Linked DNA regions of Homo sapiens. The protein of the gene in region 3 purifies or fractionates together with the protein of the main gene of each other region. This does not show direct contact. Each region holds a gene or a part of one and is shown on either strand. Other genes may lie near its edges.

The links.
Region 1: the proteins of ZNF385C (region 3) and ZNF638 purify together in Homo sapiens (affinity purification with mass spectrometry, with the first as the bait; one large-scale study listed by BioGRID). This does not show direct contact.
Region 2: the proteins of ZNF385C (region 3) and TUBGCP6 purify together in Homo sapiens (affinity purification with mass spectrometry, with the first as the bait; one large-scale study listed by BioGRID). This does not show direct contact.

The regions. Positions count from the first base shown.
Region 1 is NC_000002.12:71,330,379-71,334,615, forward strand, and holds the start of ZNF638 (zinc finger protein 638), read left to right. Parts: upstream 1-1,403; 5' UTR 1,404-1,497; intron 1,498-4,237.
Region 2 is NC_000022.11:50,220,957-50,224,602, forward strand, and holds part of TUBGCP6 (gamma-tubulin complex component 6), read right to left. Parts: intron 3,637-3,646; coding exon 3,555-3,636; intron 3,465-3,554; coding exon 3,376-3,464; intron 3,301-3,375; coding exon 3,185-3,300; intron 1,637-3,184; coding exon 1,498-1,636; intron 1,147-1,497; coding exon 1,072-1,146; intron 919-1,071; coding exon 1-918. UniProt on the Homo sapiens protein: Component of the gamma-tubulin ring complex (gTuRC) which mediates microtubule nucleation.
Region 3 is NC_000017.11:42,091,886-42,095,531, forward strand, and holds part of ZNF385C (zinc finger protein 385C), read right to left. Parts: intron 1-3,646.

The DNA.
Region 1 (4,237 bases), on a different chromosome or scaffold from region 3:
CAATTATTTAAAAAAGGATTATATGGTTTACTTGGAGAAATGTCAGTAATCAGAAAAGCAAATAGCTAATGTGTGAAAAAAGAAAACATTTCCTGTTACATGCAAATAATGTGTTTGTATGAATATAAAGAAATGTATGGAAGGAAACTTATCAAATGTTAACATGGGTTATTTGGTGTTTAGGGGGAGCTTGTTGGCTTTTTCTTTGTTGTTTTTGATTTGTTGTCCCTAGCAGGATTTTTGGTTTGAAATGAAAATCCGATAAGATATCTTTTTAAAACGACTTTTCTTTTTAGTCTTTCAAATGCTTGTTTTAATGTGAATAAAAGAAATGCATTTGCTTGAGTGCTAGGTAAAACCGATGTGTGAGACTCAGGGTGGGTGGTGTGATTTGTGTGGTATGCATACGGCAGGGCTTGTAGCTTTACCAGATTTTGAACAATGACTGGGTTTTCATATTGGTGTAGTACAGCCACCTCGAGAAGATAAAACATTGCATAACACAGTTCTTTAACGTCTGTCATCCCAAGGTTTTCCATGGGTAAAATGGAGATTACAAATATCTACCACACAGATAGGGCTTTTTATTGTGAAATGACAAAAGGATTTTCAGAGTGTTAAAGTTTTAGCTGAATAGCTTTGGTTGAATTCTACTTTACAGTTTTGAGTAGCTATGACACACATCATTGCCATAGGGATCAAAAGGTGCAAGGTGACAGGATAAAAGCAGGCAAAATCTTGACCATACAAAGCATTATATTAACGTGCTAGGCGCGAATATAACCTGTTATAATATAATGTTGTTATTATTATTTGAGATGGAGTCTCACTCTGTTGCCCAGGCTGGAGTGCAGTGGTGCAATCTTCCCTCACTGCAACCTCCGCCTCCCGGGTTCAAGCAATTCACCTGCCTCAGCACCCCCTAGTAGCTGGGACTACAGGCGCGCGCCACCGGCTATTTTTTGTGTTTTTAGTAACGGGGTTTCACCCTGTTGGCCGGGCTGGTCTCGAACTCCTGACCTCAGATGATCCACCCACCTCGGTCTCCCAAAGTGCTGGGATTACAGGCGTGAACCACCGCGCCTGGCCATATAATGTTATTATTGAAGGCACAAATGATCAGGGAAGACTTCATGAAGGAGGTGAGACAATATAGGTCTTAAAAGGATGAGCGGTTTGGAGAGGACAGGCACAGAACCAGCAAAAGAGTGAAGACGGCGCTGGAGTTTTTTTTTTTTTTTGCCGCACGCCTTCGCCGCCACCACGCGGGAGCGCCCCTTCCGGGAGCCCGCTCCGCCCGGCTCTTCTCGGGCTTCGGGCGAGCGCGGTGCCAGCGGTACGCAGGCGCCGGGAGCCTACGAGGGCTCGCAGGAGCTGGGAGGCGCGCATGCGTGCAGCTCTTTGGAGGCGGTAGCGTTTTCGGCGTCGAGACTGGAGGCTGAGTGCTAAACTGTGTGGGGCGCGGATGGGATCCAGCTGTTAGTCGGGTAGGCATAGGTAGGACCGCTGCCCTGTGGGGAGTAGGGGGTTGGAAGGCGGAGGCCGGTATCGTGGGGGTCCTGAGCCCTTCCTGTGAGATCCGGGCCGACTATTGTATCTGTGTCGCAGCGGCTCCGCACAAAATGGCGGCGGGCAGACGGCGGGGGCGGGAGGAGGTTGGGGGACCCCCGGGATGGGAAGGGAAGCTGTGCTGTGCTGCCCTGCTCCGTCGTTTATTCACTTCGCTACCCGGGAGGGCCCGTCCGGGTACTCGTGAAGGACCCTGCCTCGAGAAGAGCTGCCTGACGCCGTTGCACTGGGCCGAGGATCGTGAAGAGCCCTTTGGCGAGGCCGAGGCGGCCCCTTCCCCAGCAGCGCCCGGCCTGCCGAGGCTGCGCTGGGCCTGACAGCCGAGGAAGCGGTGGTGAGGGAATGCCGAGCAGGGAGGAAGCGTTCCCGTCGGGCCCGAAGAGGCGGTGGAGTTTGAGCCGAGCCCTCTGACCAGCGACATTGTGCAAGAAGCGTGGAGAGAAGAGCGTGTTTGTGTTTGGGGTTGGGGAGGGGGTGTCGGGATGAAGGAGGGAATGTTAGGATCCAGCGGCTTTTCCGGGCTGGTGTTCTGTGCTGCGTAGTGCAGGTATGAAACCAAAGAAAATATCACCTCTGTGGGAGACTGAGGACTCATAAATGGTTGTGATACCTAACAGTATTTCCAAATTTCTCAGAGGAATTGTGAAAACAGAACGTTAGTGAATTGTTTTTGTGTGATTCTTAGCTTGGGCCCCGTTCTCTTAAAGGAAGGGGGAATGTATATATCACAGACTGGAATCCTTGAGAACGTTTGAAATAGATCTTTTGTTGTTTGAGGTAATTGTTAATGAGGGATACTTCAGTATTACAAAATCATGGATTGAGCTATAGAGTGAAGGCTACCTGAAGCTAATTTTTCTTAATCTTAAAATTTGTCCTTAGGCGAAGTTTGGGGCCAGGACCAGAAATTGTAGTAGTTTAAAGGAGTCCCGATGAAAAACTTGTCACCAGGATCCAGCGATTTATGTTCAAGTACTTTTTCCAACGAGCTCTGGAATTTTGCACAAAAAATTTTCTGCTTTTTCCCCTCATTTGTTGTAAAGGATTATTTTTTCAGGGATGTTGTGCTTGCTGGTTCAGATTTACAATTAAAAATTGATAACCTGGAGAAAAGGATTGACCAAAAAAAGGTGAATTTAAGGAAGTTTTCGGAGAAAAACAAACATGTAAATGACATTCAAATAGCTTTAAATTTTGTTAATGATTAGACATTTGAGACTTAGTGGACTTATGTTGCTGTCTTTTAAAAAAGTTTGACAGCATTTTATATTTTATTTTGTACTCCATATTCTGTAATATGTACTTCTAAATAATTACAGGGCGTCCCAGCATGTTATACATTAAAATATGCTGGGCCATTCCTTCCTTGGGGATTTATTTGTCTTGGAACCAAGAAAGGGTAAATATAACAGTTGGAAGAAATCACAAAATCTTATTCGTTTTTATTAACTAGTTTTCATAATGTGTTTATGGTCACATATTTATTGTATATTGGTTGTATTTGTTTTGTAATCCTTTTTTGCATTTTGTTTTGGAGGGTGTATACGGCAGGTACTCTAGGTTAAAAAGGTTTAGGTACTGTAGTTTAAAAAAGTCATCACTTTGTACTTGACTATCTTAGGGTTTTTCTTGGGTGCTCTTAAGTAGGTGATCTCCGGAAATTTTGTTTTTATGTAAGTGGAAGAAAATGAGACAAGTAGTTTAGTGGAAAGAGAATAGGCTTTGCAGTCGGAAGATCTGGATTCACATCTCCCTTTTCCTCAGTATGTGTGAGACTTTGGTAAATTATTTTAGTCTTTCTTGAGCTTTTGTTTCCTTATCTCTAAAATGGTGACATTATTACTTCCTGCTTGGGATTTTTGTGAGTGACTGTTAAGTGAGACAGTGTATGGAAAGCTCGTATTCCTTGGCACATACTAGGTGCTTAATGTTAGCTGTTACTTGTATTTCAAAATTGAAGTGCTTAGGCAGCATTGTTTGATAGAAAATTATAATCTGTGGGTATTCTCTTCTAATTAAACGGCTTAAAAGGATTTAGAGTAATAGAATTTTGGAGTTGAAAGGCCCTCTAATCTAACTTTCATTAAAATATTTTGTGCTTCTATAAACTTTTTACATGCCTTTCTTGTAGAACTTATCAATATATATTGTAACCATTTATATGATTGTTACGTTAGTCTTTGTATCTTTCCCAGTGCCTGGTATGTATTAGATGCTCAGATGTTGAGTGAATGAACTCAGCTGGTAGTCACCAGAGCCTGGACTCTAAATCATGCTCTTTCCACTGTACCTTAATGTATACTGATTAAGGTTTGGACTAAATTTGTCCAAATCCTTAATAAAATGCCTTATATACTTAGAAACAGTACTTCCAGTATTGGTACCCAGTAACATAGCTTGGGCTGTTTTGCAAGGAAACAGGCGCTAATGAATGCTGCCATGTAGTGGTTTTAGAGACTCTCCAAATTGAAAGTAATTATGTTTGTGGCTAAAGCTAATAAGCCCTCATGTGTATCCAGCTTATCTACTCTTAATTGCTTTAACTTTGTTTAGTGTTTTGAAATTTGTGATGGAAAATTAAAATGGAAGGAAAATAAGTATATAGAAGATGAGAAGAGAATAATGGAAAGGAAAAAGAGTGAGGAAAAGGTGAGATGTAGAAATAAAA
Region 2 (3,646 bases), on a different chromosome or scaffold from region 3:
GTGGGTATTCCACCGTGGCCTGGTGGGAGCCACATCTGACACATTCTCCCCGACCCTGATGCTGGCGTTGGACACATGTCCATGGATGTTCCACCGTGGCCGAGTGGGAGCCACATCTGACACAGACTCCCCTAAGCTGATGCTGGCATTGGATACGTGTCCGTGGGTGTTCCACCGTGGCTGGGTGGGAGCCACATCTGACACATTCTCCCCGACCCTGATGCTGGCGTCAGACACGTGCCCGTGGGTGTTCCACCGTGGCCGGGTGGGAGCTATTTCAGAAGCGTAGTCCCCTGTGGGAAGACCACCCCCTGACACCTGCCCAAAGAGCCGCTCTGTGGGCTGGCTGCTCCCCTCCTCCAGAGCAGCACGCCTGGGTGGGTGTGAGGGGAGCAGAGTCTCCCGCGAGGCGGAGCCACAGGCATCCATCTTCCCACAACTGTCCTCCCACAGCTGTAGCCCTGAGCTGCCCAAGCTGCACTCTGCAGCCTGCAGGGGCCCTGGTGCAGGTGAGGTGGCCACAGCTGGCCTCAGGACAGTACTAAAGTCGTACTCCTGTGGCCTGGAGGGCTGAGTGCTGGCTGCTGCGGGTGCCTCCCCAGGAGCTGAGGGGGGCAGGTCCAAGTTAATGGTCTGCAGCGCCACCTCCAGGAGAGGGACCATGCCAGTCTGCACGGACGGCTCAGCCCCTGGGCCCACAGGTAGGAAGTCTCCAATGCTGAGGCTGTCAGAGAAGGGTCTGGCCCCCTCCGCCTGCTGCAGCCCCCTGCCACCAGCCCCCACTGCTAGAGGCTTAAGGGGCTGTGGGGTCAGCAGGCCTGGCCTGTTCCAGCCATCCCAGGCAGGCGAGTGTTGCTCTGCAGACCCAGAATCACAGCCTTGGCCTCCCTCTGGGTGCTCAGGGCCCGGAGACGTGACCTGAAACACAGGTGACATCAGACCCAGTCTGGTCTCAGGACCCCCCAGCCCTCGAACTGTCCCCCAAGTTCAGCTCTGCAGCCATGACCAACACCAGGTGCCGAGGGCTATGGGAAAACCATAGGGCACCCTGGGTTCCACTCTGCCGCTTACCTGGGGGTGCACGCTCAAGAGGACGTCTGGCGGCTCCTGGGGCTGGTGAGCCTCAGACACTGCTTTCAGCATCTCCTGAAATTCAAGCCAGAGGGGTGACTGGCCAAGCCGGAGTCAAGCACAGCCCTACCCCACACAAAGCCACAGCCCCTACCGCCCATGGCAGCCATGTGCACTGAACCAGACAAGGCTTGTGCTGGGCTCCAGTGGGACGCTGGGCCTGCAAAAAGTACTCCAAAACCACGAGCTCCTCACCACCTGTATCTGTGCAATTTGGTGGCACACGGGGAGAGAGAGTGCTCTGCCGCAAACGCGAAAGCCACCAGCCCTCTCCTAGAAGAGCATGTAGGTTTGTGTGCAGTCTCAGGGGGTTTCCAGACCCCCAAAGCCCAGGGGAAGAGCTGCCATCTGAAGCCGCAGACATACCTGAATGTGTTTCTCATCTTCTAAGAGAAAACGAAGCCGTGCACTCTCCAGTCGGTGCCTCTGGATTCTCCACAGTGCCTTCTGCTCCCGACGAGCTGCCTCTGCAGAGAGCTTGCTGTAGTGGTCGACCAGTGCCTGCCTGAAGCCACACACCAGAGAGGACACGGCCACAAGAGTCACCCCACCCCATCTACCTGGCACCCCTCAGGCCAGGATGGTTCTCCATAACAGAGGCCCCAGTGGGCCCCCGCCCCCGTCTCCCCCTACCAGGGGCTGATAGCTCTGGGCCCTCACAGCACCTACAGGGCAGCACCAGGCAGGCCCTTCTACCTGCCAGGCTGGGAGACCCTGGTGAGTCAGCGTCCAGCCAGGGCTCAGCAACATCTGCTGGACAAATACCAGAATGAGATCCTGTGTGGCCTGAAGCAAGGGGTGAGCAGGAGGCCGAGGGCCCCAGGCCTCTAAGAAGTTAGGCCTCTTCCCCTTCTACAGGTACAAACCTGAGAACTGAAAACTAATGCAAAAAAGCACATGAAGCAAAACCAACACAAACGCTTTATTTGCTGAATTCAAAGCCTGCTTCACCGATCGTGCCCCATGATTTTGAGCTTCTCACCAGCAGGCAACTGGGCTCAAACCTGGACTGGCCAGCTCTAATTTGGCTGCCACAGGCCAGAGACGTAGTGTCTAGGCCTGGTTTTCTCCATGTGTTAACAGGACAGTATCGACTGACATACATGCATGAACACGTACTCATGCATAAATGCATACACGGACACACGTGCACACAGGCACGCGCACCCCTCCACACACATCCCTCACTCGCTCCATAAAGAGATCTAAGGTTGGGACCTACAGCATCGCGTGGGGCTGAGCAGGAAGCGGCCAGCCCCTCCCGTGAGGGGCTCTCTCCAAAACCCCAAACAGCCCCTTGAAGGATCCAGCACTACTCAGCCTGGGACAGCCTGATGACAGCACAGGACAGGTTGATAACAGCACAGGGAGACAGACGCAGATGCTGTGCTGGACAAATGCCCTGTCTCAGCCGAGCGCGGTGGCTCGCGCCTGTAATCCCAGCACTTTGGGAGGCCGAGGCAGGTGGATCACCTGAGGTCAGGAGTTTGAGACCAGCCTGGCCAACATGGTTAAACCCCGTCTGTACTAAAAATACAAAAAACTAGCTGGATGTGGTGGCGGATGCCTGTAACCCCAGCTACTCAGGAGGCTGAGGCAGGAGAATTGCTTGAACCTGGGAGGCGGAGGTTACAGTGAGCCGAGATTGTGCCACTGCACTCCAGCCTGGGTGACAGAGCAAGACTCTGTTTCCAAAAAAAAAAAAAAAAAAAAAAACGCCCTGTCTCTGTCAGACCAATAACAGACTTAAAAATAAATAAGGAAGGATGTTCAGAAAGAAGATAAATAAAGAGACAGGACCCCAAACAGTACGCAGGCCTCGCCTGGACCCTAATCCATACAAACCACCACAAGACAACGCGCAGAACAGCTAAGGATGCCTGGATAAGGCAGAACGCCCACAGCCACTCTGGGTTCAGCATATTGGTCTTTCTACCTTAATGTATGTTTGAAGGTTTTCAAAACAAAAAGTAAAATCATCAGTAAGATTAAGCCAGAGCTATGGGGCCCCTGCCGCACTGCACCCCTGGGCCTGGAGCCCGGGCTGCCCTACCTCGCCTTCCTCTCCAGCTCCTCCTCCAGGGACTTCAGCCTTCTCTCCCTGTCTCGGAGTTCACGGGCGTAGCTGAAGTCATCATCCAGCTCCTCCTGCCTGGCCGCCTGGCGTCGCTATAAAACACATAGAGCCTGGCCTGTGAAATCAGAACTGACAGGCGTGACCCCGCAGGGACAGGTCCTACCCACCTCCTGGTCCTTCACAAATTGTTCTTTCAGCCTCTGAAACTGCTCACGCTTCCGGGCATCCAAGGCCATCCGTTCTGACATCTGCCGGTCTACATTGGGACAGTAAGGGGCGCACTGTCACAAGGAGGCCCCAGCAAGGCCCCCCGGAACTGCAGAAGGGAGGACTTGGGGCCACTCACCACTCAGTGCACTCAGGACCCTGGATGCTGCTTCCCGGGCATGAGCGATTAATTCTTGTTTTGCAATTTCCATACGTAATTCCTGAGAAAGA
Region 3 (3,646 bases):
GTGTGAAGGTAGAGGAGCTTTGGGTGAGGGGGAGATTCAGGAAGAGCCAGGGGTGACTGCAGCCTGTGACTCTTTTAATCAAAGGAGCAGCTCCAGCATGGTCTGGCAAGGAGCCCTGGCTGTGAGGGGTGAGGAGACCCAGGTTCCAGTCCAGGTTCTGCTAGAAGATTGATTCTGCGAAAGTTCCTTTGCTCTCTGAGCTTTCATCATCTACAAAAAGAACTTTGATCTTAGCCAGGCCCAGAGGTTCATGACGGTAATCTTAGCACTTTGGGAGGCCGAGGTGGGTGGATCACCTGAGCTCAGGAGTTCGAGACCAGCCAGGACAACATGGCAAAACCCTGTCTCTACTAAAAATACAAAAAATTAGCTGGGCATGGTGGCATGTGCCTGTAATCCCAGCTACTCAGGAGGCTGAGGCACGAGAATCTTGTGAACCTGGGAGGGGGAGGTTGCAGTGAGCTGAGACTGCACCACTGCACTCCAGCTTGGGCAACAGAGCAAGCGAGATTCGTGTCAAAAAAAAAAAAGAATTTTGATCTCTGCAGGTGCTCATAGGATGGGATGAGGCAGTTCTGTATACTGCAAAGTTCTGTACAAAATCAGGGGATAGGAGGCCCTTTGGGGTCCTAGGGAGATTGTTCTGGAGATGGATTCTTACAGGGGCCCCGAGCCCATCAGAGAATTATTCCTCTGCTAAAGTCTCACTGGAGGACTGGCTCAAGCCTCTGCCAACAGGGAGAGTGGGCAGGCTTCTCCCACATTCCAAAGACCACACCCCATGTGTCCCTCTTTAGGAACCCCTAGAAAACCCAAGGGTTCCTGTTCCCAGTGCCTTTTCCTGGCATTTCCTCTCCTCTCAGCAGGGAGTGGGGGAGTGTCCCATCCCCATCCTGCCCTCCAGGGCCAGAGCACTCAACTTTGGGGCTGGGGAGGGGGTCAGCTGGCATCAGATGCGGGACTGAACAGAGCTGAGATCAGAAGGGTAGAGAAGTCTGGGGCTTGGGATGTAGGAGAGACATCTGGGAGCGGGGGGCGGGGGTCCGGGGAAGGCTGGACAGGGCAGGGGGCAAGGCCAAAGCTGGGTCTGGCCTCTAGCCTGGGCATCTAAAGTGAGAAGAAGGACCTGTGGAGTCAGTCCTTGCCCCACCCAAGGAAATCTTAATCCAATAAACAAACAGCCAACACAGCCGCTCCTGTGCAAGAAGCCGTGGGAGCGATGGGGAGGCCACAGAGGTGGGGAGGCCAGGAGAGGGCAGGGAGGCTGTTTAAACAGGCCCCTCGGCCTGGGGCAGTTGGCAGAAATATTTGGAACAGGGTGGGGAGCACAGCTGTGGTTTGGAGCAGGAAGCTGGGGCCCGGGGTGGGTGGGCTGAGCTTGACTGCTTCCAGGAGAAAGAAAAGTGTCAATTCAGCCCCACTCTGGTCAACGCCTCTTCTGAGGGAGACTCCAAGTCCCAACACCCTTCCCTCAGTTCAAGGTCAATCAGGTCAACCAGACAGACAAGGGGCTCTATCCCTTATCTCCCAGAGTGATGACTCTGGACCCCCAGCCCTGCTCCCAGGCCTATGACCCTGGGCCTCATCACTGAAGAAAGTTTCAGAGTTCAGAGCCGAAACCCCGGAGTTCTCAACAGAGGAGTTAGAGGAGATGAGCCATCAGCTCTTTATTTTTTTTACTTTTTATTTTATTTTATTTATTTTTTTTTTTTTGAGAGAGGGTCTCACTCTGTCGTCCAGGCTGGAGTGCAGTGGCACGATGTTGGCTCACTGCAACCTGTACCTCCCAGGCTCAGGCAAATCTCCTGCTTCAGTCTCCCGAGTACCTGGGATTAAAGGTACCCATCACCAAGCCCGGCTAATTTTTTGTACTTTTTTAGCAGAGACGAGGTTTCACCATGTTGGCCAGGCTGATCTCTAACTCCTTGACCTCAAGCAATCCACCCACCTTGGCCTCCCAAAGTGCTGGGATTACAGGTGTGAGCCACTGCACTCGGCCCATCCACTCTCCCTAGGACGTGATATTCCCTTTCCTGCCGCCTTGCCTGGCAGTGGAGGAGCCCAGAAGTGATCGTGGCCCCCTGGGAGGCATTATCACCTTTTTTTTTTTTTTTTGAGATGGAGTTTCACATTTGTTGCCCAGGCTGGAGTGCAATGGCGCAATCTTGGCTTTCTGCAACCTCTGCCTCCCAGGTACAAACGATTCTCCCACCTCAATCTCCCAAGTAGCTGAGATTACAGGCATGCGCCACCGCGCCCAGCTAATTTTGTATTTTTAGTAGAGACGGGGGTTCACCATGTTGGCCAGGCTGGTTTCGAACTTCTGACCTCAGGTGATCCACCCGCCTCAGCCTCCCAAAGTGCTAGTATTACAGGCGTGAGCCACCGTGCCTGGCTGTCACCTTCTTTCAGGACTCTTGGCTCTCCTTTTGCCGAGACTCCTCAAGAGACTAAGGCAGAGAGTCAGAGGGATACATGTCCAGACTGACAGGCAGATATAGAGAGAGGTGAAGATACAGAAAGACCCACCCAGAGAGATAGCCACGCAGTCAGACACTGAGAGTGGGAGTGTGAGAGAGAGGGACAGAGAGAGAAGGGGTAGACAGAGGAGGCAGAGAAAAAGGAAGAAGAAAAGACATAGAAAGACTCACAGAAAAAAGAGCTAGACGGGTGGAGAGGAGAGACAGAGATAACAAAGGACAGGGTCAGGAGAGGGGAAAGGACACAGATGGGGAGCACACAGGAGGCGCAGGGCCAGACACACTCACAGGCCGAAGCAGAAAGAGGCTCACGAGAACTACACAAGGACAGACAGCCTCAGGACCCAGAGACACTCTCCTGGGAGACGTGGGGGGAGCCAAAGTGCTTGGGGGTCGAGCCCCACTGGGGGTGGCCTCACCAGGGCAATGCTGCTGCCTCCTGTCCCAAAAGCTTAACCAACCGCTGCCGGCATCTGGCCCCCAGCCACCCTCTAGTAAGCCAGCCCTTGGCCACTGGAGCCAGTGGGTCACCCAAGGTGAATGAAAAGTCACCAATAAGGGACAGTGAGAGTGTGACTGGGGTGAAGGTATGGGTGTCACAAGCCATGTGTGTCAGGGTGGGTCTGACCTGGGGTGGGGTTTAGGAGCGCACAACCCTATACACAGACCTCTGGGGGTTAGTGCAGGCGGGCATGCGTACCTGAGTGAGTTTGTGAGTGTCTGTACACGTGTGTGGATCCAGTTCCATTAAGAGCCTCACGATGCTAATGAGGCCAACGTGGCAGGCTGTTCCTCAAATAGCCCAATCAGAAACAATGAGTGAGCAGAGACAGCCACAATAAAGGTTTCATGCCTCTTCTGAACAGACGGTGTGTCCAGGTGCCACAGGGCACTTGACTACAGTCAACACCAGCGTACCATTCATTCCCGCTGGGGATGACCCCCGCCGCCTGGCCAGCTGACCCCACAGTCTCCCCTGTCCCAAGCCCAAACTCCAAACTCATGGGAGAACCCACATGATAGACACATGGGCCCTCCCGGGTGGCAGGCGCAGCTCCCTCTGAGAAGGGCAGCCAGAGGGATGGTGGGGTCCAACCCTGGCTTTCCCCCAGGCTAGCTTCCATCCCTCCTGCTGCTGCGGCCCCATTTAGCTCTCTCCTTGCTCC